Regions from separate parts of the Homo sapiens genome. Here region 1 is linked to region 2. Evidence: fine-mapped expression QTL. A gene starts in region 2. The other region holds a variant in brackets. All regions are shown on one strand. Distances are between the middles of the regions. Region 1 holds the start of KLRG1 (killer cell lectin like receptor G1). Region 2 holds the start of M6PR (mannose-6-phosphate receptor, cation dependent).

Region 1 (10,700 bases), 34 kb after region 2:
CCTGGCCTGTCTTTTTTTTTTTTTTTTAGACATATCTTGCTCTGTCACCCAGACTGGAGTGCAATGGTGCAATGTCAGCTCACTGCAGCCTGTGCCTCCTGGATTCAAGCAATTCTCCTGCCTCAGCCTCCTGAGTAGCTGGGATTACAGATGCCCATCACCATGCCTGGTTAATTTTCTTTGTATTTTTAGTAGAGACAGTGTTTCACCATGTTGGCCAGGCTGGCCTTGAACTCCTGACCTCAGGTGATCCATCTGCCTCAGTCTCCCAAAATGCTGGGATTACAGGTGTGAGACACTGCACCTGGCCTGTCCTTCATTTTTAAAAGATAATTTTTCCAAGTATAGTATTCTTGGTTTAGCTGTTTTCTCTTTCAGTGCTTTGAATATATCATCCCATCCTCCTGGCATATAAGGTTTCTGCTGAGAAATCTACTGATAGTCTTATATGTGATGAGTCATTTTTATTGTGCTACTTTAAAAATTCTCTTTGTCTTACCTTTAACAATTTAATTATAATGTGTCTAGGTGTAGACTTCTTTATGTTTAACCTACTTGGAATCTTTTAGGATTCCTGAATCTGGATGTCTATGTTCTTCCCTCAATTTGGATAGTTTTCAATTATTACTTTGTTACATATGTTTTCTGCTTCTTTCTCTATTCTCCTTGTGGGACTTCTATAATGTGTATATTGGCTTGCACATTCATGTCTCCCAAATCCTGGAGGTTTTCTTTTTCATTCTTTTTTTTTCTCCTCTGACTGGATAATTTCAAATAACCTGTGTTTGAGGTTGCTGAATCTTTCTTCTTTTGATCAAGTCTGCTGTTGAAGCTCTGTATTGTATTTTTTATTTTACTCATGTATTCTTCAGCTCTATAATTTCTGCTTTTTTTGTTTTTGTTTTTTGTTTGAGTTGGAGTTTTGCTCTGTTGCCCAGGCTGGAGTGCAGTAGTGCGATCATGGCTCACTGCAACCTCTGCCTCCCAGGTTTAAGTGATTGTCCTGCCTCAGCCTCCCAAGTGGCTGGGATTACAGGGGCCTGCCACCATGCCTGGCTAATTTTTGTATTTTTAGTAGAGACAGGGTTTCACCATGTTAGCCAGGCTGGTCTCAAATTCCTTACCTCAGGTGATCTGCCCACCTCAGCCTCTCAAAGTGCTGGGATTACTGGGATTACTGGGATTACAGGTGTGAGTCACCATGCCTGGCCCTGTTTTTTTTGTTTTTTTGTTTTTTAATGATTTCTATCTCTCTGTTGAACTTCTAGTTTTGTTAATATATTGTTTCTGATATCACTGAGTTGTCAATCTATGTTATCTTTAGCTTACTGAGCCTCTTTAAAACACTTTAACTTTGAATTCTTTGTCGGGCAATTCATAGATCTCCATTTCTTTGGGTTTGGTTACTGGAAATCTATTGCGTTTTTTGGTGATGTCATATTTTCTTAATTTTTTATGTTCCTTATAGGCTTGCAGTGGTGTCAATGCGTTTGAAACAGCAGTCACCTCTTACTGCCTGCAAGGGTAGTGGCTGGGTGAGGTGCATGGTGCACTGGGTCAGCATGGGACTGGAGACTTGTGGGGCACATATGGGCACTAGTTCTAAAGGGTGTGTCATGGCATTGGGTCTGATAGGTGAGTGCACACATGCAATGCTGGGCTTGGGGTAAATAAGCAGCATTCATCCTGGTTCCAGAGGGTGTGGCTGAGGCTCTAGCTTTGGAGGGGGTGCAGCAGTGTGAGTTCTGGGCAGCTCCATCGGCTGGTGTCAGCATTCTTGAAGACTGTGGGGGTCCTTGGCAGTTAAGGCTGTGGGTATTTGTGGCAGTGGGGATGGCTGCTAGAGTCCTGAGTGGCACAGGTTGCATGGGTTTTCCTGCTCTCCTTTTCACCTTGTGAGGAAGTCACAGCTGATGGTATTCCTCTTGTCTTTGAGCTTTGCCAGCCTGGGGAATGGGGTTACACAGGTAAAATGCTTTCTACACTTTTCTGCATGACCATCCTCAGTTTTTCTGTTTCACTGAGTTGCAGCAGCTTTTTAATTGCACTCCAGAACTCTCCCAGAGCTATTTTCATCTGTGGATAATTGCTAAATTGTTGTTTTTGTGGATATATAAGGACTGGTACATCCTAGTCTGCTCTCTTGCTGTGTTAGTCCTCTTGCTCAATCTTATTAGAAGTTTATCAGTCTTAATCTTGTCAAAGAACCAAATTTTGGCTTTGTTAATTTTTCTAGTCTTTGTTTCATGATTTTATTAATTTTCCATTTTAAAATTCTGTCTTTTCTTCTACTTACATTGGTTTTAATTTACTCTTCTTTTTTTAACCCTCATAAATTATAAACTTGGATTATTTATTAATTTTTTTCTTTTCCATTCATTTAAAACTACAGTATTTGCTGTAAGACTGTTTTAGCTGTGTTCTATATATTTTTGTATTCTATTTTCATAATCATTTAATTTAAAATATTTTAACGTTTAAAATTATTTTTTTCTTTTACCCATGGGTTATTCTTCAAAGTGGGTATTTTAATTTCCGAATATTTAGGAATTATGTCGATTTTTTCTTGTTATTGATTTCACTGTGGTTATAAAATATATCTGTAAGATTTTAATATTTTGTAATGTATTATATTATGGCTGAGTATGTAATATATCTTTGCGAACATTTTATTTACACCTAAAAACGTGTATTCTTTAATTGGTGAATGTCATTTTGTTGGGTTAATTTAATTTGGTCAAGGTGGTTGATGGTGGTGTTGAGGTTTTTTATATTATTACTGAATTTTGTTTAATAGTTTTATCAGTTACTGAGAAAAGGTTTTTAAAATATCCAACTATGATTATTGATGTTTATTTTTCTTTAACTCAGCTTTTGCTTCTGTTCATATGTTTTGAAGCTCAAAATTAGGTGCATACTTATTTATAGTTGTTATATATGCTTGATGCAATCAGTAACTCATGTAATTATGAAATGTACCTCTTTATACTCACCTATTTTTGTCTTATATTAGTATGACCACTTGTGGAAGGCTGAATAATGTCTCTCCCCACCTCAAATATGTTAACACCCTAATCCCTTCAGCCTATAATTATGTTACCTTATATGACAGATACTTTGTAGATAGGATTAAGCTAATAATCTTGAGATGGAGAGATCATGCTGGTTTGTTCACGTGGGTTCAAGGTAATTATGAGAGTCCTTATAAGAGGGAAGCAGTAGAGTCAAAGTCAGAAAACAGAGTTGTAACAATAAAAGCAGAGGTTGGAATTATATACTTCAAAGGTGGCAGAAGAATCCACAAGCCAAGAAATTTGAAATTTGGCAAAACTGATTTCCTTCTGGAGGCTTTAGAGGAGAACATTTCCTTGACTTTCCCAGAAGGAAATCAGTTCTGCCAAAACCTTGATTTTGGACTTCTGACCTACAAAACTTTAAGAAAATAAATATATGTTATGTTAAGTCACTAAGTTTGTGTTAGGTT[A/G]TGTGTTACAGCAGTGATAAGAAACTAACACACCACTCCAGGTGCTTACTGTAATGTGTATATTGGTTTGCACATTGTATATATTTGTATACCTTTCTTTTAATCTGTCATTATATTTAAAGTGCATATCTTACAGCCAGAACAGACAATATCTTTTTTTTTTTTTTTTTTGAGATGGAGTTTCATTCTTGTTGTCCAGGCTGGAGTGCAATGGTGCGATCTTGGCTCACTGCAACCTCCACCTTTTGGGTTCAAGCAATTCTCCTGCCTCAGCCTCCCAAACAGCTGGGATTACAGGCACCTGCCACCACGCCTGGCTATTTTTTGTATTTTTAGTAGAGATAGCGTTTCACCATGTTGGCCAGGCTGGCCTTGAACTCATGACCTCAGGTGATTTGCCCGCCTCAGCCTCCCAAAGTTCTGGGATTACAGGTGTGAGCCACCATGCCTAGCCAGAACAGACAATATCTTTTTGGTTCTTGCTTTTTCTTCTAGTCTTACAATTTGTGCCATTTATTTGGTGCAGCAGTCCATTTATGATGAATTCAATTATTGATAAGACTGGCTTTATCATTTTGCTGTTTTTTAAAATGATTTGCCTTATCTGTTTTACTTTCTGTTTTTTTTAAAGAAATTAAGATGGGAAAAGAAAATAAATATAATTCTTTATATGTACTTATATATTTACCATTTCTGTTGCTCTTCAATGTTTTCTGTATATCTATGTTTTTATCTAGTGATACTTATTTTCTAAGAACTTCTTTTAGCATTTCTTGTAGTGCTGGACTGCTCATGACAAATTTGCTATTTTCTCTGCTCTGAAAATATTTTTACTTCCTCTTCATTTCTATTGGATACTTTTTCTGGATATAGAATTCTGTATTGGCAGTCTTACCATTTTACCTTTTTTTTTTTTTTTTTTTTTTGAGACAGAGTTTCGCTCTTGTTGCCCAGGCTGGAGTGTAATGGTGCAATCTCAGCTCACTGCAACCTCGGCCTCCTGGGTTCAAGCGATTCTCCTGCTTCAGCCTCCAGAGTACCTGAGATTACAGGCGCCTGCCACCACACCTAGCTAATTTTTGTATTTTTAGTAGAGACGGGGTTTCACCATGTTGGCCAGGCTGGTCTCGAACTGGTGAGCTCAGGTGATCCATGTGCCTTGGTCTCCTAAAGTGGTGGGATTACAGCCGTGAACCGCCGTGCCTGGCCCATTTTACCATTTTAAAGATGACATCTCATTGCTTTTCTCCTTTTTTGTTTCTGTTGAGAATTTAGCTATCATTCATGTGTTGTTTCCCATTATTAATGTGTTATTTATTTTCCTCTGGCTGTTTTCAGTATTTTCTTTTTATCTTTGGTTTTTATTAGTTTTAGATTATGTTCTTAGGAGTGATTTTCCTTCTGTTTATCTTGATGCGGATTCAGTGAGTTTCTTATACCTGTAGGTTGTATCCCAAATTTGGGGAATATTTGATCATTACTTTTTCAAATTCCTTTCCGATTTCATTATATGTCCCCTTTATTTTGGGGGACTACAGTTTCACTTTTGTTATACTATTTGGCATTGTTCATAGGTCACTGAGGTTCTGTTCATTTTTTTCTCCCATTTTTTCCCTCTATTCTTCATATTGGATTATTTTTAGCAATCTGTCTTCATGTTTACTGACCTTTTTATCTGCCCTCTTCTATTTGCTATTAATCTCATTCAGCTATTATTATTATTATTATTGAGATGGAGTCTCGCTCTGTCACCTAGGCTGGAGTGCCGTAGTGCAATCTCAGTTCACTGCAACCTCTGCCTCCTGGGTTCAAGTGATTCTCCTGCCTCAGCCTCCTGAGCAGCTGGGACTATAGGCATGTGCCGCCAGGCCAGGCTAATGTTTTATATTTTTAGTAGAGACAGGGTTTCACCATGTTGGCCAGGCTAATATTTTATGTTTTTAGTAGAGACAGGGTTTCACCATGTTGGCCAGGCTGGTCTTGAACTCCTGACCTCAAATTATCCACCTGCCCCCGCCTCCCAAAATGCTGGATTACAGCTGTGAGCCACCGTGCCTGGCCCTCATTCAGTTATTTTTAAAAATTATGAATGCTGTTCTGTTCTGGAATAGTCACTTGATTCTTTTTGGTAGTTTCTACTTCTCTGAGATTCTTCAAATTTTTATTCATTATGACTATATTTTCTTCTAAGTCTTTGAACGTATTTATGCAGATATTAAAGTCCTTGTTTGCTAGTTCCAGCATCTATGTTACATAAGTTTCTTTTCTACTTACTGACTTTTCTTTGATCCATGGCCCATATATTCTTATTTCTTTGGATTCTAATAATATTTTATTGTATGCTAGATATTAAATGTGATGCATTATGGCTAATCTGTGTTATGTATCCTCTTTTTTGAAGAAAAGTTTTATTGGGGAATAATTTCAGATTTACAGAAATGTTTTTAAGATAGCACAGAACATTTCTTTATACCTTTCACCCCATTTCCCCTAATGTTAGCATCTTAAAAAATCATGGCACATTTCTCAAATGTAAGAAATGAATATTGCTACATTGTTTGAATTTTACCAGTTTTCCACTAATGCTCTTTTTGCTGTTCCAAGATCCAATCCAGGATACCACATTACATCTAGTTGTTATATTTATTGTTTTCCTCTGGTCTATGACAGTTTCTCAGTGTTTTTTTTTTTTCGTGAACTTGATATATTTTAAGAGTATTGGTCAGATATTTAGTAGAGTACCACTCAATTTAGAATTATCTGATTTTTTTTTTGCATGTTTACATTGGATGTGTAGGGGAAAACTTTCTTCAGCTGTGTTTTTCTTCTGCTTTCACACCAGCACTACCACAATTATCAACACAGAAGAAGACTTGTGTGACCAAATGTGGTAGGGGTGTTCCCCACATACCAATTAGCAGACACCAACTGGGTATCCTCTAATTCAATTCCGACATTATCTACCTGGAGATAGTGTTAGATCTTACATTTCAGGGATTCAATATGCAAGATCACCCCCTACACCCACAGACACCAGTCACAAGTCTGGGCCTCTGGAACATCTGACCAATAAGCTTCAAGTTGGGATTTCCACAACTTCCCCTTTGAGTTCAGTTAATTTGCTGGAGCAGCTCACAGAACTCAGGGAAACCCTTATGTTTATCAGTTTATTATAAAGTATATTACAAAAGATACAGATGAAGAGAACTGTAGGGCAGGGTATGGGGAAAGGGGTGTGGAGCTTCCATGCCCTCTCTGGGAAGGCTGCTCTCCAGGAATCTCCACAGGTTCAGTCATCTGGAAGCATTCTGACACAGTTCTCTTGGGTTTTTATGGAAGCTTCAGGACATCAGCATTCTTGCTGCTGACCCCCTCCCCTTGTCACCCCAGTAAAGGGCAGGACCCTCTCTGGGGAAGGTTTTAAGACCCACAATCAGAAAGGCAGGGGAAAATTAGAGTCCTGCCTTGAGGCAGATGAAAGGAGGGCAGAAGAAGGCCAGAGGCCTTCCCCTTGGGGCCTGACACACTCAACATTATAAGAAAGGACTGTAACAGGGACCATAGGAGTTAGGAGCCAGAAACTGTGGATGAAAACCAATATATACATATGTATAATACCACCCTGGGGTTATGGATTTTGGGGAACAAACCTTACTGGTTAGGTGCTTTTATCATTGCATCATATTAGGGGGTACATGATATCAACAAGACTCATCACTGGTGGTTCACGCAGTGAACCCTGTTCATGTGGTTGAGGTGGTATTTGCCAAGATTCTTTAATGAATAGTTACTATTTCCTTTTATCCATAGTGTACTCTTTGGAAGTGAGTCTCTTATCCCTGACTACCCTCAAAGGGAGGAGAGTTAAATTCCACATCCTGAATGGGGAGTATCTACATATATTATTTGGTATTTTCTGTAAGCAAGATTTGTCACTTCTCACCTATTTATTTATTTAAATCAGTATGGATTTATATAGTTTTTCCCCTTGTGTTATAATTCAACACTGTCATTTATTTTGTTGTTCATATTGTTCCATTGGGAGCTTTTCCAGGTTGGTTTCTGTGTCCTGATATGCTCCCATCTTTTTTTTTTTAACTTGCTTATTTTTTAACATTAAAAGACTGGAAGATCCTCCAAGCTTATTTTGTACTTTCCCTGTCCTGGCCCTAGAATTAGCCATTTCTTCAAAGAGCCCCTGATTCCTATGTTGCCTTCTGATGTGGTTTGGATCTGCATCCCCACCCAAATCTGACGTTGAATTGTAATCTCCAGTGTTGGAGATGGGGCCTGGTGGGAGGTGATTGGATCACGCGGATGGTTTTTCATGAATGGTTTAGTACCATACCCCTAGAGCTGTTCTCCTGATAGAGTTCCTCACAAGACCTGGTTGTTTAAAAGTGTGTAACACCTCCCCGCGTCTCTCTTGCTCCTGCTCTGGCCATGTAAGACATTTCCCTTTGCCTTCCACCATGACTAAGTTTCCTGAGGCCTGCCCAGAAGCAGATGCCACTATGCTTCCTGTACATCTTGCAGAACTGTGAGCCAATTAAACCTCTTTTCTTTATCAATTATTTGGCCTCAGGTATTTCTTTATAGCAGTGCAAGAATGGACTAATACACCTTCCTTTTTTTAAAAAATGATCTTAATTATTTTAAAGCATACAATTCAGTAGTGTTAAGTATTATTATGGACTGAATGTTTGTCTCCCCCAGATTCACATATTGAAGCCCTAATCCTCAGTGTGACTGTATTTGGAGATGGAGTGTTTAAGGAAGTAATTAAGGTTAAATCAGGTTACAAGGGTGGGGCCCTGATCTGATAGGATTAATGTTCTTGTAAGAAGAGAGACCAGAGCCCTCTCTCTTTCTTCCCTTGTGCACACACTGAGGAAAAGCCACTTGAGGATATAGTGAGAAGTCTGCAACCCACAGGGGAAGCACTCTCCAAACACCAACTCTGCTGGCATCTTGATCTTAGACTTTCAGTCTGTGGAATGATGAAAATATAAATAAATTTCTGTTGTTTAAGTCACCTAGTCTATGGTATTTTGTTGTGATAGTCCAAGCAAGTGAATACAAGAATATTCACATTGTTGTGTACCGTATCTCCAGAACTTAATCACACTGCAAAACTGAAACCCTGTACCCATTAAGCAACTTCCTTTTCTTTTTCCCTCCAAACTTCTTTCAGTAACCATTCTTCTTTCTTTGTCTATGGGTTTGACTACTTTAGATTCCTCATATAAGTGGAATCACACAGTATTTGTCATTTTGTGATCAGTTCATTTCACTTAGTATAATGTTTTCAAGGTTCATCAGTGTTATAAAGTATGACAGGATTTCCTTTCTAAGACTAATATTCCATTGTATGTGTAGACCACATTTTGTTTGTTTTGCCTTCATATTAAGGGCGTGAAAATTTGTTCTCAGAGGCAGCTAAACTATTGATGACTCTTTTTGGCAATGTTAAGTTTTGCTCTGTTTTTGGTTGGTGCTACTAAGCAATGCATCACCTCTGTCCTTTCTGTTCAGCTCTTGGCCCTGCAGGAACTATCTCAGCTTGGACTTGCAGAGTTTTGTCCTATGTCTGCGCAGCCTAGAACTTGGCCACAGACATACAGTGAATTCCTACAGTCTTAAGGGTGCCTCTCTCTTGTGAATTATCCTGCCCTGCAAATTCCAGCCATTTAAGCAGCTCAAAACTCCAATATCTGCCTCCTCATTTTAGTAAGACTGCTGTTCTGTTTAGGATTCATTTTTGTGCTCTGTACTAGAAAGTGGTCCTAGATAGAAAGCTAGGGTGATCATTGCACTCACCTTTGTATTCTCTCAAGGATCACAATGCTGCCTGTGTGTTCCTGAAAATAGCTGCCTTGTGTGTCTTGCCATGTGTTGTATTTTGATTGGAGAGTAAGTCTAATGCCATTCTGTCATGGCTGGAAGCAGAAATATATTTGTTTTTATTAATATAAAACAAATTAATATAAAGCACTCCCTGTTTCTCTTCTTTTATCCTTATGCAGTCTATCTTGATGATCTTATCCACTCTTAAGAGTTTCAATACTCTTTCTGTTTCCTTACTTTAACTTTTGTTTTTTTTAGACGGAGTTTCACTCTTGTTGCCCAGGCTAGATAGAGTACAATGGTGCAGTCTCGGCTCGCTGCAACCTCCGCCTCCCGGTTTCAAGCCATTCTCCTGCCTCAGCCTCCTGAGCAGCTGAGATTACAGCCCCCACCACCACACCCAGCTAATTTTTTTGTATTTTTAGTAGAGACGGGGTTTCACCATGTTGGCCAGGCTGGTCTTGAATTCCTGACCTCAGGTGATCCACCCTCCTTGGCCTCCCAAAGTGCTGGGATTACAGGCGTGAGCCACCACACCTGGCCTACTCTAACTTTTTATTAACTTTTCACCTACTAAAAACAAATTACTAAGATGTTAGAATGTATTTGTTTACTTTGCTCTTCTTTTTAGTTATCTTTGCATGAAGTATAATAATAAAAAAAATAAGACAACAAAGAGAAAAAATATAATGGAATTTCTGATACTGTGAAGGGTAAAGACCATCACACAATTTGGACAAGGTTTTGGGGAAGATGTGGTCATGTCATATTCACAAAATATATCTGGGTAATAGTCTATTTCTCCCGTGATTCCAGGCATATGCACCCAACAGTCCATTTCGTTATTGCTTATCACTGCCCAAAAGTTCCAAGAAATGATGAAGTCAGTCTCATTTGGCATACATCTACTTTTTCAGAAGGAAACAAAGCAGAGAAAAAATTCCGAGAGAAATTCATAGCTAGTAACCACTCTCACTTTTATTTTAGTTTCCATAACTGAAATTGCTGGACTTGAGAGCAATTTTTCCTTGCTCAACAGAATTAGGTGAGATGGGGAATCAATTTAATATATATTTAGTGAGCATCTACAGTGTCATGGGGCAAAAAAATAGCAACTTACAATATTAATTTCTATAGGCAGCCCCCAAATTTGAATCATTTCCTGAAAAATTACTTCTGCTTTTGTGAAGTTTCCTGCTAGCAGTTTAGAGATTGGGCTGTTTCCTCACTGATACATATCCCTTCACACTTCTATAATTTAACTCTCTCAACTGCATGTGAAAGATCTTAGCTGAAGATGACTGACAGTGTTATTTATTCCATGTTAGAGTTGCCTACGGCAACCCAAGCCCAGAATGACTATGGACCA
Region 2 (17,703 bases):
TAAAAAACAAACGGCCAGTGAGCCTGCTACACCATTTTGCCCATATGCCTATTGTAACTTCTGATGTCAAGAGACAATGCAAAAGCCTCTGTTTTCACAGGCCCTATTATATTAACTCTGACTTACAACTGTACCTCTCTAGAGAAAAAACAGAAAATAAGGAACAAAGGGAAGGCAGTTTTACTAGTGAGAAGATGCAAATCAAAAGCAAACTGGAAAGCAAGAGCAATAGTAAGGGTGAGATGAGGGACTGGAGTTGAGACTGCTTGAGAAATCTGGCTGTGTAGCTTTGGTTTGGGGGACTGAGGAAGAGGCTGGACATATAAAGTGCAATCTACATTGGTAATAAATGGTCATCCCTTTCTTCTGACTCCTCCCCCAGCTGGTCATCCCCCACACCACGATATGCTGCAGGCACATTTCGAGGTTTAGAACGGCAGACAAAGTCACAGCCATCCTGTAGGGGGAAAAAAAAGAAGGAAATAATTCGCAGCATCTAACTTTAGGATATGAGAAAGTGTACTTATGGTCTAGGAATGTGGCAAGAATTGGTTTTCTATAGGGATAATGAGAAAACCTAAAAGATCTGACAATCAGCCTAAATTCAATTTGGGGCAACAGGAGAAAAAGTTTCTTCTTATTAGGCCTCACCTTCTTCCCACCCAGGCCCTCTTAAAAGCTAAATCAGATTTAGAAGAGCCCATCTGGTCAACAGTGTTGCTCTTTCAGCAATGTCTTACCAAGGCCAGAAATGGATGCTGTGCCACTTACTACTCTGTACTAGGGCAACTGTCTTGTTTGCTGGGACTTTTGTGGTTTTAGCACTCAATGTCCTGTGTCCCAGGAACCCCCTCAGTGTGAACAAACGAGGATGGTTGGTCACCCAACCTTGTTTGCAGGCTACAAATTCAACCAGCTGCCCTGTTACTTACTGCTACCAGGTTGCCAAGATCCTGCCAGAAGGCTAAGTGGGGAAACTGCTCCATTCCTTTGGCTCCCACTACCAGTCGCTGGTATAGGAACCCCCCAACAACATAAACAGCAACCAGTGATGCAAACCTGTAGAGAGAGAAAGACATCTATACTTAAGAACTGGGAAATAGTAAAAACTCAGATAGGATAACCTCTGCATTTATTGTCAGCTGTTTCCTAAGATACATTCCCTGAAAAGGAAAAATGAGTAGTGATACTAAATGAAAAAGGGGGCTGGTAACTCTTAGAAAACCAGTTAGAGTGCTGTCAGTCCAAGAGAAGCAAAGGCCCAGACAAAATGTGACAGCGTGTGATTCTATGGCCAAGAATAATCACCATTAAGTATATGATTCCATTTCTCTAGAAGTTCTCATAATCTAATGAAATAATATAAAAATTGCCTAGTCCTGCAGTAGGGGAAAAAAGCACCTCCAAATGCAAATCTATACCGGCAACTAAACATTAAATCTCATTTTTCAAAAACTTGCAGTCAGAATTTTTTTTTTTTTTTTTTTTAGACGGAGTTTTGCCCTTGTTGCCCAGGCTGGAGTGCAGTGGTGCGACCTCAGCTCACTGCAACCTCCACCTCCCAGGTTCAAGTGATTCTACTGCCTCAGCCTCCCAAGTAGCTGGGATTACAGGCATGTGCCACTGTGCTGGCTAATTTTGTATTTTTAGTAGAGACGGAGTTTCATCATGTTGGTCAGGTTGGTCTCAAACTCCTGACCTTAGGTGATCCATCTGCCTTGGCTTCCCAAAGTGCTGGGATTACAGGCGTGAGCCCTGTGTCCTGGCAGAATTATTTTATAGCCAGAGGATTTAAAAAGTTATCCCCATCAATTACAGCATAATGTACACATACAATTTGTGCTTATGTACCACCATATAGTTACTGACCTTAAAAACAAAAGGAAGGAAGGTCTGTTCTGATAAAGGAAGGCATACTCACGTGACAAGTAAGATGGAACCCACACTGAGGTGGGAGATCTCTGGTGAACAGGCCAGGCTGCTATCCATCTCAAAGAGGTAGAAACAATCTTGGACTTTGCCACGCTCCTCAGACACAGGGTTAAAATTGTCCTGATGATGAGATGGCATAACACATTCAGGTGGTTAAGTGTTTTGACTCCTGTCCAACAAAATAAAAAACCCAAAAAACATCTGCTCCTTCCTGGTTCAGCAGCCTATTTTCCATGGAAGATGCGTGTCTGACACAGAGAGAAACTGAGCTCCTAGTTTTCTAATGTCCATCCCAACGTATCGTGTCCCCTCTGGATATTCTCCCCAACCTCAGGTCAGTCCTTTCAGTCTCCTCCCTCGGCTTATACAACACAGGGTGCCTCACCGCTAGGGTGTGTCGATTGCAGGAGATCATCACCACTGCACGACGCTGCTCCTTGCCACAGTGGTTGTCATATTCATCACCCCCTTTATAGATCAGCATGATCCAATTACCTGAGGAGGGACAAGGAAAATGGAGCTATGGGGTGGGGGAAAAGCAGAGGCAGATCTGGGTGGTATGGCAGAGTGGAATTGCGTAATTCATTGCAATTGGTTATAACTAAACAACCCTCATCAGTACGAACTTGGTATACCAGAAATGCCAAGCTAAACTTGTTTGCTTACAAAGACTTGTGTTCCCTTAAGACAAGAATCAGATATTCATTTAAGAATAATCTTAATTTTTAACATTAAAGGTAGGCAACTGACAATGCAAAACCAATTATGATCCATACCTTAACACTGATTCATTTTCTGAATACCTTCTAAAAGCAAAAAAAGAGGTTCCATACAATTGCTGAGCAGCAGGGGTAAGCCCATCTAAGATTTCAACTTAGCCCCAGATAAATTCAGAGTGGATATCTAAGATTGGAATGCATATCTCTTCTTTAGTATTTACTGTGTTCAGTTCTTTTGCAAAATATCATTTGATTCAGTAATTGTGAGGTGAATAAGGTAAAGATTCTGCTCCTAGTTTTGCATATGAGAAAACAAGGTCAAAAGGTGATACGACTTTCCAGTCACAGGATTAGGAAACAGGAGGAGAACCTGGTCACATGATCCCCAGCCCCAAACCCTTTTGTTACTTTTTTATTGTATTATTTACCAGGAGTAAATAGCTACCTTGTATAACTTATTTATCTGTATGGGAGGGAATTGGACCATAGGTGCTTACATGGTCCTCTCCAGCAATATGACTTTTAAGAAATATCACCACCATAGCACAAAAATCAGTGGGTAAAGTTTTGCAGACTGAGTAGTTTGCAAAAAAAAGTTTGAGCTCTTAAAATTTAACTGGTAAACTTTGATTAATTTGATGAAAAGTGGTGGTGGTGGTTGGTATTTGTAAGTCTAGTGTGAAACTCATTAAAAGTATTTGGGTGAATAAAAGGACTCTAGGCTACAGAATTCTGGCTAGAGTTGGCTGGGCGCGGTGGTTCATGCCTGTAATCCCAGCACCTTGGGAGGCCAAGGTGGGCAGATCACGAGGTCAAAGATCAAGACCATCATGGCCAACATTGTGAAACCCTGTCTCTGCTAAAAATACAAAAATTAGCTGGGCATGATGGCACACACCTGTAGTCCCAGCTACTCAGGAGGCTGAGGCTGGAGAATCGCTTGAACCCAAGAGGCTGAGGTTGCAGTGAGCCGAGATTGTGCCACTGCACTCCAGGCTGGGTGACAGAGAGAGACTCCGTCTCAAAACAAAACAAAACAATTCTGGCTAGAGTCTTCATTTTGCATAAGTTTTTCACTGATTTTAATGCACAACTGTCCTGAGCTGTGGCTTACAGAGGAGCTGTGGAATTAGGCATCCTGTGGTATATTACAGTCTCAGGTGTGCCGAACCACACGTATGATATGCTGAAGACACTAGAAACGGCCAAGACATACAGGATTGTCAGAGGGATTGACTTGGGATCAGTTAGTCAATCGATGGTAGGAAGGGGAGTTTTCTTACTTCCGTTGAAGATGTGAGTCTCGTTGAGTCTCCCTACCACTGTCTCCTTCCCATTACTTTTGTTGATTTGCACCAGGCCTGCCCCAGAAGTGTGGTTGCCAGCTTCCCGGCACACCCTGAAGATGTAGATGTATGTGTCTGAACCCTGGCCCACAGTGCTCTCAAAGCTGTAAAGAGAAGTGGGAAGAAAGAAGAGGAGAGTTACTAGCTATCAGCCTCAGGAATAACAGCATCCCTTTCCTTAATTAAAACAAAACAAACAACATGCTCGATTTATTTATTTGAGGTCATGGCTGAGTGAATATTTGTTTAATTTTAAGATATTCATAACCTTGACAGACCATCCTTATTGCTGATGATGAATTATTAAAACACACTTGAGCTATCTTGATAGCTCAATATTCTAGTTATTTTTAGAATGCCTGTTAGTAACCATGTTCCAATGAATAAGGGCCCATGTTCATCGGATAGTCTCGTTTCTTAGGGACCAACTTCAGATTTATATATCTGAAGGTTCCTGACACTTATAATGACATGTGTCGGCCTAAATATGTTTATCTGATATTTCTAAAGTCCTATTATATGTAGGTGTCAAATAATCCTTAAATTTCTACAAGCTGGTCTCTTGGATCCAGTCTTGGAAATAGCTACACTTCTGTGAAAGATGAGAAAACTGCACACAGCAACTAAAAACTGGGCTGAGAATTTGCTCTATGTCATAAAAGAGAGCACATTATGAAATAAAATCAGTAAGAAGAAAAGACTTTAACATAAATATTTTCTCAAGCTCTTTAAGGTTCTTCTCATTTACCTTTTATTAAACAGTGGTTTCAGCCTCTTCACTAGAGCCAACTCTTTCTCTGACTCTTTACCCTTTTCTCCTACCAAGTCGCAAGTTTTTTCTTCTGTCTGCCAGGATTCTCTCACTGCCACAGCCAGGAGTAGTAGTAGCAGTCCAGTCCTCCAGCAGCTGTAGAAAGGGAACATCCTTTGGGAGAGAGTGTGTGTTGGGGAGGGCAGGTAGGATCAGGAGAGAGAGGAAAGAGATAAAGCGTATGAATGTGTAATAAATCGATGGTATTTTAATTATCCAGAAAGTACAAGATTCTCTGGCATATGCAACACATAGTACATTTTAATATCTCTGTAACAAGAGCATCTGCAGCAGAAAATTCATTTATATGTAACTTGTAGTCTAATGTATAGGTGAGTCTTTCAGAACAAACTACAAAGTTGGGAAGAGGGAAATGAAAGAACTTAAAAAAGAATGATGACAGCTTGGGTGGAGCCATCCTTGCCTCTTTACTGTTTGATGGCTTGATGTAGTCTTCTGAAACCTCTTTGGCCTCTACAGGTCACAAATCTCAAGGGTTTCTAGACTTCCCATAAGTACAGTTGTCTTTTACACTACAAATCAATGACAACAAATTGGGGATCACCAAGCCACTTTACAATTGAGTAAATTCAATGCACCTGCTGCTTGTACTGCTCTAGGAATGAAAACACACAGACAGCTCTCTTTCCCAAACTTACTAGACTGGTGCAAAGGTCATTGTGGTTTTGGCAAAAAAACCCCACCAAAACCTAACATTTTCTTTTCTCTTATCCATCTTCATACCCAGGACAGACTGACTTACCCTTGCAAAACACTTTACTCTGGTATCTGTTAATGATCCCTCAGGCCATTGCTACTTGTTTATTCCAAGAGTATCACGGACAATTTCCTGATTTAACTCTTCTAAACTTTTCTCACTTACAAAAAACGCTGCAAGTCTGGACTTTGGTTTGAATATTCTTTAAAGTTCTCTAGTTCTTTTTCATGCGGGTCCACTTACTCCACCTCATTTTTAAAATATAAAACTTGAAACAGGCAGAATTTTCATGGGTACTAATGAGTTTGAAGATGGGAAAATGGAAGCTCCAACCTTGGCCGTGAATGCACTTTCCCCATTCCCCTAAACAACCTAACATCTGACCTTCCACTTCCCACACCCCACTAAAGCAAAAAATCCCGGGAAATTGTCTACCTGACTTCCTGTACCCCAAACATCAATTCTCTACTGTAATATTATGGTAGTTTCCATAGAATAATCATAGCTAACCAAGAGGTCCAAGGCCCTCATAACACATTTAATGCACTGAAACCACACAACAGCAGGAAACAACAGACTACTGCCTTGGGCCAGGTGCTGTTCAAAGCACTTAACATATATTAATTAACTAATTAATCCTCACAACCTTATGAGTAAATACAATTATTGTTGCTATTTTACCAGTAAGAAAACTGAGACACAGCTAGTGGAGTGAGCCAGAGAGTCTAGCTCCAGAGCTCATGGTCTGTGTTGAACAACTACATGTATATTTCCACTATGTGCATAACAATTTTTTGGAGATGAGAGTAGACAGCCAAAACTGTGGGTTTTTTTTTTTTTCTACTAAGAAGTGAAGGGGAAGTGATTCCTCACACAGTTGACTGAATAGGAGGTGAAATAAAGAACTCAGACCTCCAACTCCCACCTTCCCTAAGTTAACCCACTGCTCAACACACAACTTGACCAGCTGACTCACTAAAAAGAAATAGGAGACTCCTTCTTCTAGACTGACTTAGCCTGCCATTTTCCTTTCCAGTCTCTCAGGACCTAATTAAAAACTGACAGTTGATTTCTTTTCCTAAATTAGAACAAGGAATCTCACAAAATTAGGAAGGGATGAAAGGTTAAACACCTCAGCCATTAGCTGAGTTGAACTATCTTTCATTTGCTTATTATTCAAAAAGTTAGGATAATAAATTTATACTGTATTCTTCTTTCCTGCTTAAGGCTTGTCTTTAAATTTAAGCTGCTTCTCTTTAATTCAGTGGCATATGCGCTAAATGTTTTCCCTAGATTATGTTCATTCATCTTCACAACCCAGAAAATAGGTATAATTTTTCATACTTCACAGATGAGAAAACTGATGCTTTACAGAATTACTTGTTAAATTACTTGCTGTACATTACACAGATATTAAATGTGTGTGAAGTTACTGGGGCAATTTAGACGATTCGTGGCATAAAGATAACTGCTGGAAAACTTATAAACATAGGGGTGCAACAATCAGGAAGAGAATGAAATGGAAGGGCCCAGTAGCCCCCTTTTAATATGCTACAATTAGATTCTCAAGGTACAAGAGTTTGTCTATATACTTTGGAAATAAGGAGCAGGATTTTATGATCTTGAAAAATCTTTCAGTTTTCTTATTCTCTAACGACAGATCTATTTTATTTGGCAATGCTAAAAATTATCCTTTATTAGGGTGGCCAATGACTAAGCCAGCAACTGGGAAGCAGCTTACACCACTGGGCCTCTGTAGCACTCACTTCCCCATCTGTTAAGACAGCCATGGCCATTTACCAGTGGAATTTCTACTGTCTTCCCGCTGGCTCCTTTCTGATGTAGCAGTCCTTATCCCTTTTTCTCCAGCAGCCTACATGTTTAGAAAAGCAGCCTCAATTGGCTAAAAGGCCTAATGCTGAAAGAACTCAAGAGAGAAGGAGCCTCAGACAAGTAGCGGCTATGTCCCAAGAGCGGAAGCTCCCCACAACGAGGAACACAAGATAATCCGTCCATCAGCCATTCTTATCCACACCACAGTCGCATCCCCCTCAAAGCTCTCCCAGGGTGCCAGAAATTCTCGCTCTGTCTAGTGTCCCGACTTTCCAAGCGCTTGTAGCCATACCCTCTCCAAATGATGCCACTTGACCTCCCACCGTGATGCAGGCCAAAATTCCTCCTACAAATAAATCCACCAACACCTCCAACGGACTCCATACTTGGGGTATTTTCCTTTCCCTGCTTTCTAAATATCGTAAATCCCCTCTCTGGTCTTGGAAGTCCTTTCTCCCTCACACCTTTCGGAACTCCGTGACTCTCCGCTCTCATGCCTCCGCCTCCATTCTACCCTTAGGGCTCCTCAGCCAGATCTTTGGCTAGAACCATGGTCAAGGGAGAATGCGATTCCGGCTCCTGTCACAGACGCTTAAGTGTGAGCGCAACCCAGCCCGCCTCCTCCTCCACGCCCCTCACACTCACGTGTCGTGGGAAACTGGAGTAGCCAAAGCTCAGAATCCCCAGTGAATACCCTTCTGGGGATGGGAGACGGGGCCAGCTAGGGGCCGGCCGCAGACCCCGGTCCCAGAGCTAGTTTCAGAGGCCAGCGTTCCCCCTAGCGCCTCGCTGTGCCCCACTCTGGGAACCGGAAACAGGAAGCGCCAAGAGGCCGCTGGGCAACCGCTCCTCCCACCAGACCCCGCGGCATGTGACCATAGAACCATTTCGCCCCTTTCCCCTTCCCGGGCTCCCTGATAATCTTAAACTCTGATTGGCCAGTATTCTGGGACTTTAGCTCCGCCCTCGTTCCATCAGCTCCAATCACTATCGAGGTTGTCGTTTCGCCTTTTCTGGTTGCCTTTCTTTCAATGGGGTCCCAGAGTCCCGCTTCCAGGGCCTCTCGGCTCGCGCACCCCGGTCACGCGGGGTCACGCGCCTGACCGCTCCCGGGTAGGGTTCGAGTGAAGAGGGTGAGAGGGGCAGGTGGCGGAAGCGGAAGTTACGCAGGCAGCTCGCCCTCGGGCTCCGCGGGAGTTGTAGTTCTCACGCTAGGTCTCCTCCGGGCGCTTCCCTAGCCCGTTCGCCGCCTGAGAGGGACGCTGTTCCGCCGCGTGGAAGCTTCGAGTCTCGACTCCACTGTTGACCCCTAGACGAGAGTAGTGCAGCGACGGGGCCGTGATGTGCGTCCTGGCTTTCTTAACGACACCTCTCCTCTGTATTTCCTTTTTCCAGTTGAGTACCTTGGGGTGAATTATTATTGTTACTGTTATCTCTGTCGTTCCTTACTGCTTCGTGGTATTTTGCTTGATAAGCATGCTCTGCAACCACCTCTGTTCGCCAGAGGTTACTTCTGCAAAGTAGGAAGAAACGAGCAATACGATGGTAATCTTTGCGCCTTTGCTAAGATCTTTTGTAGGTTCCTTATGTCTTACTAGCCACTTGTTGAAGTCCTGCTCATTCTTAAACTCTGTTCAGATGTTATTTTTCCTGTAACTTCGTGCATTCACTCTCTTCAGAATTAACAATTTCTTCCTGTGGACCCTCGCTTGTGGCTTGTACCTGGCTTTAGCATGTTTTCATTCCGCTTCCACTCTTACGTTGCTTCTATGTGTGCCTCTCTGGCTCTATGCAGGTGCCTGGATTTTTGATTCTTACCCCTCTCATTAGAACTACTACAGTGTTTTGAGTCTAATAATAATAAAAGCTAACGGATGCATATCTCGGTGGTGCCCGGCACTTTTGTAAGTGCTTTAAACGATAGTTAATTCACTTGGTCTTCACACCAACCTTATGAGGAAGTATCTTATCCCAAGTTTACAGATGAGTAAATTAAAGCAGATAGAAGCTAAGTAACACCGTGGGTCCCAAGCTATTAAGTTATGGAGCCAGTATTTAAATAGTCTCCATAATCCATGCTCTCAAGCACTACGCTTTACCGACTGTATGCCATTCTGCATTTCTTTGTTTATTAGTAATACATTCAGTTCAGGCTAGGTAGTAATCATATCTGGGTTGGATGTTGCCCCAATAAAAAAAAAAATTAAATTTTTTTCTTCCTGAAAATGAAAGTAATTTGTGATCAGATAACACAGAAAACAACAAAACAAAAATCATACATAAACTCACCAGGAGGGTGTGTATTTCCTTCATGAATATATGTTGTTTCCTTTTTTCAAAAATGTATCAGTCCCACACTGTGGCTCATGCCCGTAATCCCAGCACTTTGGGATTCCGGGGCAGAAGGATCACTTGAGGTCAGGAATTCAAGACTAGCCTGGGCAACATAGTGAGACCCCTTCTTTCAAAAAAAAAAATCAGCTGGGCTTGGTGGTGCACACCTGTAGTCCCAGCTGCTTGGGAGCCTGAGGCTGGAAGATTGCTTGAGCCTGGGAGTTGGAGGCTGCAGTGAGCTATGGTCTTGCCACTACCCTCCAGCCTTGGTGATAGAGTGAGAACCTATCTCAAAAAGATATGTATGTATCAAATATTTTTCCATATCCTTGACTTTACAAATAAACTTTTTAATAGCATAATATTTAGTTCTATGCATTGCTACTTAACCAATGACATTAATGTTGAGCATTTAAGTTATTTCTACTGACTTATTTTTTATCAAGTAACTCAACACAGCTTTACTGAGCAATTACTATGTGCCAAAACCACAGAATATATAATATAGATCTTGGGGATACAGCAGAGAAAAAAGACAAAAATCCCTGTTACAATCCGTTCTAGAATTGATGTTCCTTTGTTGGTTAATTCAAGTTTTGATTTCAGAAATCTTACCTCTTGGTGACTGCCTAGAGTGGCATTGGGCTGGAGGGGAGGAACTGTTCATGTTGGAAATGGGGAATGGGCCAAAAATGCAATTGAGTAGGTTGATTAACTTGTCTGCTGTCAGAGTGGAAGCAGGGGTAGTTTCCCTTTCCGACCAGAGGCAAACAACCTGGGTCACTTCCTTGCTTCTCAGACCTCAGTGCCCTTTCTGGGTGCTTTCTGTGTTAGAATTCTCACCTCTGAGAACTGAGCTCAAGGTTCTTGCTGGGGCAAAAATTGAAATGAGCAGAATTTTTTTTTGTTTGTTTGTTTGCATTTCTGGCCTGCCTCCTTTCTTAGCCTCATTATTAACAAGCACACTCCCCACAATAAACCTACACCCACACTGCCTTCTCTCACACAAGGTAAATTGTTCACCTTGTTTAGAAAGCAGTTCTAGGATTGTTGGTCTGAAATCAAATGGGAAGGATGCCTCCTGTTCTGTATAATCATAAGAGAGGAAGGTAATTAACAGTCCTAGAACCTCAGCTTCCCAAGTAGCTGGGACCACAGGCGCAAGCCACCATGCCCAGCTAATCTTTGTATTTTTTGTAGAGACAGGGTCTCACATTTTTGCCCAGGCTTGTCTTGAACTCCTAAACTCAAATAATCTGCCTGCCTCAGCCTCCCAAAATGCTGGGATTACAGGTGTGAGCCACTGAGCCCGGCTCAGATGCTTTTCAAAATGATCATGTTTTCCATATTTCAAGGACTAAATATAGTTTTTGGTAACTTTCAATTTTAATATATTTATCATTTATAGAGAAGATGCAAGGATAATACAAAGAACTCTGGTACACATTTTACCTAAATTCATCTTTTTCCCCTCCATATACATTAGTTTATTTTGAACAGGTTGAGAGTAAACTTCCATTACCATTAAATATATCAGTGTGTATTTCCTAGAAACAAGGACATCCTCTCATCAAAATCAGGAACTACAGTATTAATACAATATTACCAAATCCATAGTCTGTATTCAAAATTTTATCACGTTTCAATAGATGCTATGTATAGTTACTTCCGATTTCCCAACAATCACAGGAGCCAAGCCAGAGTCACACATTGTAATTAGTTGTCATTGATCTTACTTGACTTTGAAATTTTGATAGGTACTGGCCACTTGTTTTGTAGAATGTCTTTCATTTTGGTTTTGTTTGATATATCTGATGTAGGATTTTTCTCGGTCACTTTGCCAACCAGGGACCCGTCCATAGCTAGTGACACCCCCCCCCCGCAAAACCCCCAGGCCTCACTTGACCTGCTGCCTGTGTTATAGTTTGTATCTGCATTCGGTGGTTCCTGAACTCTTGTCCCACATCCAAGAAGAATGAGGATATGCTGACAATTTGAAGGATGAGAAGGATGGAGAAGAATTTTATTGAGCGATGGAACAGCTCTCAGCGGAGAGGGGATGTGGTAGGTGGAGGTGGTCCCCCACCCCTGCAGTCAGGTGGTTTCTCACCCAATGTGGCTAGGTCTGGGCATTTATGGATTCAGAATGGAAAGTGTGTGCTGATTGGTTTGTGAGTATGCAAAAACAGTTAAAGTGAAGACACCACTCAAAGGTGGGCACGACAGTGTAGAAAACCAATTAGGAAAGGGTAGGTGTATATAAAATGGGTGAAAGGTGGGGATCAATCAAAGAAAAATGTGCCAAATGGGAAGACAGGTTTTTAATCCGGTCCATGGATTTGACTTGTAGCTTGGCTTTCAGGCTTTAAACTGTCTTCAGCTTGGAGATGGGGTTTCACTGGGGATCTGCCTAGGCATTTGTCTGCCTCCTGCGGCTATCATTTCCTCATGATTATATTTAAGTTTGCATTTTTTTTGGATAGAAATGCAAGGGAAGTGATACGTTTTTATATCAATCAGGGTCCATTCAGAAACAGATATCATATTGGCGATTTTAACAGGAAAAATTTAAAGAATTATTTTCTAGTAAAAGATGATCAGTTACTAAAAGAGGACTCTATGATACAGAAGAAGCAGCTACGAAAAGGAGCTGTTACTTCTAGGGCTGAAGAAGAGTTAATAAAGGAGTTACTTAAGTTAAAGGAAATGCTCCCTTCCCCACCTGCAAGATTAGAGATTCAGATCTCTGAGGGGAGGGTGTGTTTCCTACCACAGGAACATGCAGTCCACCCACTGATGAGGCCGAGAAGTTGCGGGAGGGTGTGGGCCTCTGTTGAGCAGCCAGTGGGAGCCTTTTAGTGGTGCCTCCTTTATCCTTTTGACATGTCCATATGATTTTTTGAGGAATTCTTTACTTTCAGGCACATAAGATGTTCCGATTTTATCTTGTAGCATTCAGCATGAATGGACCTGGAGGACATCATGCTGAGTGAAATAAGACACACACAGAAAGAAAAATATGATATGATATCGGTTGTATGTGGAGTCTTGAAAAAAATCACCATAGAAACAGTGTAGGAAGATGGTTACCAGGGGCGGGGTAGGGGAAATGGGAAGATGTAGGTCAAAAGGTACGAAGTTGCGGTTAGATTCTAATGTTCTAGTGTGTAACATAAGGACTATAGTTAATATTGTATTGTATACTGGTACTTTGCCAGGAGAGTAGATTTTAGGTACTCTTACCACCAAAAAAAAAATAACTACATGAGATGATGAATATGTTAATTTGCTTGACTGAAGTAATCACTTCACTATGTATATGTGTATCAATCAAAATATCTTGTATGCCTCAAATGTATATTTTTAAAAAGTTTTGTGGTTCTCTTACCCTTATCCTAGAATCAGTCATTTCACCAAGGGGTCTTGGTTCTTTTAGTGGAAAATGGTATTGAAAAACCAAGATGTGATTACGAGTTGTGTTTGTTGCTACTTGTGTGTCACTGCTTCAGTGTCAGCAGACAGAGCTAGGAAATTGTTTATTTCCAAGAGTGAACCAAGTTCCCATTATATTCATTGTATGTATACATTTATTCACATATAAGAAAACACAGGAAGTGATTTTTTAACTGATAAGCCATACGATGTGTGAAGCAAGCCTACTAGTAAGAGTTCCATATTTGTTTAAAGTTCTGGTTTCTCTTGTTAAGGCAAAATATATAAGTCATGAAATGTACAACTCTTTTTTTTCTTTTTTTTTTGAGGCGGAGTCTCGATCTCTTGCCCAGGCTGGAGTGCAATGGTGCGATCTTGGCTCACTGCAACCTCTGCCTTCTGGGTTCAAGCTATTCTTCTGCCTCAGCCTCCCGAGTAGCTGGAACTACAGGCGCCTGCCATCATGTCTGGCTAATTTTTATATTTTTAGTAGAGATGGGGTTTCACCATGTTGGCCAGGCTGGTCTCGAACTCCTGACCTTGTGCCGCCCACCTCGGCCTCCCAAAGTGCTGGGATTACAGGCGTGAGCCACTGCACCTGGCCGAAATATACAACTCTTAAGGATACAATTCAATTTATTTTGACAAATGCATCATAACTGTTATCTGTAATCAAAAAATTTAGAAGATTTTCATCATCCAAGAAAATTTCCTCATGCTCCTATCCAGTCATCTTCTCCTAGTCCTAGAGGCAACTATTGCTCTGATTTTTTTTTTTTTTTTTTTTTTTTTTTTTTTTTTTTTGAGATAGAGTCTCTATCACTCAGGCTGGAGTGCGATGGTGCAAACATGGCTCACTGCAGCTTCGACCTCCCAGGCTCAAATGATCCTCCCAGCTAGCCTGTGGAGTAGGTGGGACCACAGGAGTGTGCTACCATGCTAGGATAATTTTTTTTTATTTTTTGTAGAGATGAGGTTTCCTTATTTTCCCCGAGCTGGTCTTGAATTCCTGGGTTTGAGTAATCTTTCCACCTCAGCCTCCCGAAGTGCTGAGATTACAGGCATGAGCCATCAAGCCTGGTCTTTTGAATTTTTCTTTTTTTTAAATTATAGATTAATTTTGCCTATTTTAGAACTTAGTATAAATGGACAGATACTGATAGTGGTGGGAAGCAGACAAATTCCTAGGTAGATACGGGCGGGTCCCTGGTGAAAACCAACCTTCGAGTCAAAGACCGCCGGAAGCCTGAAAACTCACCTGCCAGTTCTGGGTAGAATCTAAGACCCAAGTGAGAACTCCCGCAATGCCTTTTAGCCAATCAAATGGTGCTTTTTCCAGGCTGCCTATGGACCAATCAGCACACACTCCCCCATTCTGAGCCCATAAAAACTCCCGGACTCAGCTACACAGTGGGACTACCACCTTTGGGTCCCCTCTCTGCTGGGAGCTGTTCTGTTGCTGAATAAACGTCCTCTCTGCCTTGGTTACTCTGCAATTGTCAGTGTAACCTCATTCTTCTTGGACGCAGGACAAGAACTCGGGACCTGCCGAACAGCGGGTGCAAAAGAACAGCAGGTGAAAGGCTGTAGCCCTCCTGCCCTCTCCTGGCACCAGGCGGCCACCCCACGTTATGGGAAGTGGTGGTGGCGCCAGGCCAGCCCAGGAGCCGTGGGCTGGTGGGACTGAACAAGTTGGGACATGCCCCCGTTCGGCAAAGCTTGTGGACAGCAGGAATGAATGAACTGTAACACAAACGAGCTGAGACTCTTCGGGGTGCAGACCTCGGGATTCCCCAAGCCAGAGCTGTAACATGCTGTAACACCCCCCACCGCATTTTTTTTTCTTTTTCTTTTGAGACAGAGTCTCACTCTATCACCCAGACTGGAGTGCAGTGGTGTGATCTTGGCTCACTGCAACTTACTGCCTCCCAGGTTCAAGTGATTCTCCTGCCTCAGCCTCCTGAGTAACTGAGATTACAGGTGCCTGCCACGACTTCCGGCTAATTTGTTGTATTTTTAGTAGAGATGGGGTTTCGCCACGTTGGCCCGGCTGGTCTCGAACTCCTGACCTCACGTAATTCTCCCACCTCAGGCTCCCAAAGTGTGGGGATTACCGGCATGAGCCACTGCACCTGACCTTTGAAGTTCCGCAGTTGCTGGTGTCTTTTGAGTTTTTTGGACGCCACTGCGTTCCCTTCGTTCATATGCCAGTGCCCAAGGCAGAAGCTGCTTGCAGTATACCTGATCCAGCCACAGCTTCACATGAAGCTGGTGCCTGGAGGTGATGCCCTGCTGTAGCAGCTAGCATACCTGGCTTGCCCTTGGTGGGTGTGAGATCTGGGCCAGTACCGCTAGCCAAGAGCCAAGCACAGCCTGCCAAGCCCAGTGGGTGGAGCCAGCCCAGTGGTCACGAGTGAATCTTGATCTTGAGCAGGGCCCCCCCGGCCGTGGAGGTCTCTGGCTGTGGAACACCACCAAAAAATCCTGTGTCAATAGCATGTTCCTTTTGCATTTGTTTGATTTCTTTCACTGTAATATCTGTGAACTTGTATGTATCAGTAGTAGGTTTTGTTTTGTGTTTTGGTGGGGTAGTATTACATTTTATGAATACAGTAGCCCTCCCTTCTCCTCAGGGGACATGTTCCAAGGCCCCTGCTGTAGACAGCATCTAACCCAGTTGCCTTCAATGAGAATATGTTTCTGTTCATATCTTCCACCCACAAATTTAATGCCTTTTCTGTCTTAACGAAGCACTTACCGTGGCCCATGGCAGTAACTTCTGCAGTTTGAGTTGCAACAGCAAAACTAGCACACATTCTTTTCCCTTCTTCACAATTTAACAGATAGAGGATTTATTCTTACCATAGATGTTAGCAACCTCGGAATACTTGTTTTGTTTTTTGTTTGTTTGTTTGTTTTGTTTTGTTTTTTTGTTTTTTGTTTTTTTTTAGTAAGTCAAGAACCTTCACCTTTTTATTTAAAGGAAGCACTTTACACTTCTCTTTGGCATGTCTGCATAGCCAGCATTACTACTCTTGCGCTTTGTGGCCATTATTAAGTAAAATAAGAGTTACTTGCACTGCAGTACTGTGGCAGTCAATCTGATAACTGAGAGGGACACTAACGGGCAGGGAGTGTCCCCAGCGTGTTTCCACTGGATGAAGGGGTGATTTATGTCCCAGGTGGGATGGAGCAGGACAGTGCAAGATTTTATCACAGTACTCAGAACAGCATGCAATGTAAAACTTATGAGTAGTTTATTTCTGGAATTTTTCATCTGATATTTTCAGACCTCGGTTGACTACTGGTAACTGAAATTGTAGAAAGCACACCTGCAGATAAGGGTGGGGAACTATCGTATTTCTCATCTTATTCATTCCCTTTTGATGGGCGTTTGGGTTCTATCTGTATTTTCTTCTAAGAAGCCTTATAGTTTTATGTTTATGTCTGTAATTTATTTTTAAATTTTTTTAGAGACAGGCTCTTGCTATAGTACCCAGGCTGGTCTCAAACTCCTGGCCTCAAGCTCTTCTCCCAACATGGCCTCCCAAAGTGTTGGGATTACAAGCATGAACCAGTGTGCCCGGTCTGTGATCTATTTTGAGTTAATTTTTGTGTATAGTTGAGGTAGCACTGAGGTTCCTTTTTTTCCCCATATGGATATATAATGACTTCCTATAACATTGTTTGACTATTTTTCCTCTCTTAATTGCGTCAGAGCTTTGTTGAGAATCAGTTGATTGTATAAATGTAGTTCTGTTTCTGGACTTAATTCTGTTTAGTTGATATCTTTATTATTAAGCTAATAACACACTCCTGATTCTTCTAGTTTTATATTAAGTCTTGAAGAAAGGTATTATAAGTCTTTCTTCTCTTTTCAAGATTGTTTTGGCTATTCTAGGTCCTTTGCATTTCCATATACACTTTAAAAGCAACCTGTCAATTTCTGTTAAAAAATCCTGCTGGGGCAAGGCATAGTGGCTCACGTGTGTAATCTCAGCACTTTGGGAGGCTGAGATGGGAGGATCACTTGGGCTCAGGATTTCAAACCAGCTTGGGCAACATGGTGAGACTCTGTCTCTACAAAAAAACCTAAGAATTAGCTGAGCGTGGTGGCTTGTGCCTATGGTCCCAGCTACTTGGGAGGCTAAAGTGGGAGGATCGCTTGAGCCCAGGAGGTCAAGGCTTCAGAGAGCCGTGGTTGCACCACTGCACTCCAGCCTGGACAACAGAGTGATACCCTGTATCAAAAAAAAAAAAAAATCCTGCTGGGGTTACAATTGGGGTTGATATGAATCTGTAGATAAATTTGGGGAAAATTGACATCTTAATGTTGAGTCTTATAATTCATGAATATGAAACCACCTTTGCAGAACTATAAGTAATGAGAGAAGTCTAATATGGTTGACTCCATCTTGCTTCCAACCTCTCAAGTTAAATTGTTTTTTTGTCCATTCTAATGTGGGGGCCAAGATAACTATAAGAGGAATTTAGTTTACAGTTAAAACCACATTCATAAAACAAAGTTAAAATTATGGTAGGGGCTTGAACTTTGCTGAAGAATAGACATAGTTGAAC

What was found.
Region 1: its variant is fine-mapped to the expression of M6PR in whole blood (INTERVAL, PIP above 0.99).

What each region holds. Positions count from the first base shown.
Region 1 is chr12:8,979,008-8,989,707 of GRCh38, forward strand. It overlaps KLRG1 (killer cell lectin like receptor G1), which reads left to right and starts at 10,539. Exons shown (of 5, transcript NM_005810.4): 1 at 10,539-10,700. The coding sequence starts at 10,629. The variant A/G (reference allele first, on the strand shown) is at 3,485.
Region 2 is chr12:8,941,484-8,959,186 of GRCh38, forward strand. M6PR (mannose-6-phosphate receptor, cation dependent) reads right to left here and starts at 8,162. Exons shown (of 7, transcript NM_002355.4): 1 at 8,005-8,162; 2 at 4,746-4,922; 3 at 3,935-4,101; 4 at 2,318-2,427; 5 at 1,922-2,052; 6 at 933-1,059; 7 at 1-457. The coding sequence starts at 4,921. The coding sequence ends at 335. It also overlaps a transcript of KLRG1 not described here. RefSeq lists enhancers at 7,426-8,331, 8,332-9,236, 8,735-8,864, 14,346-15,545 and a silencer at 8,542-8,756.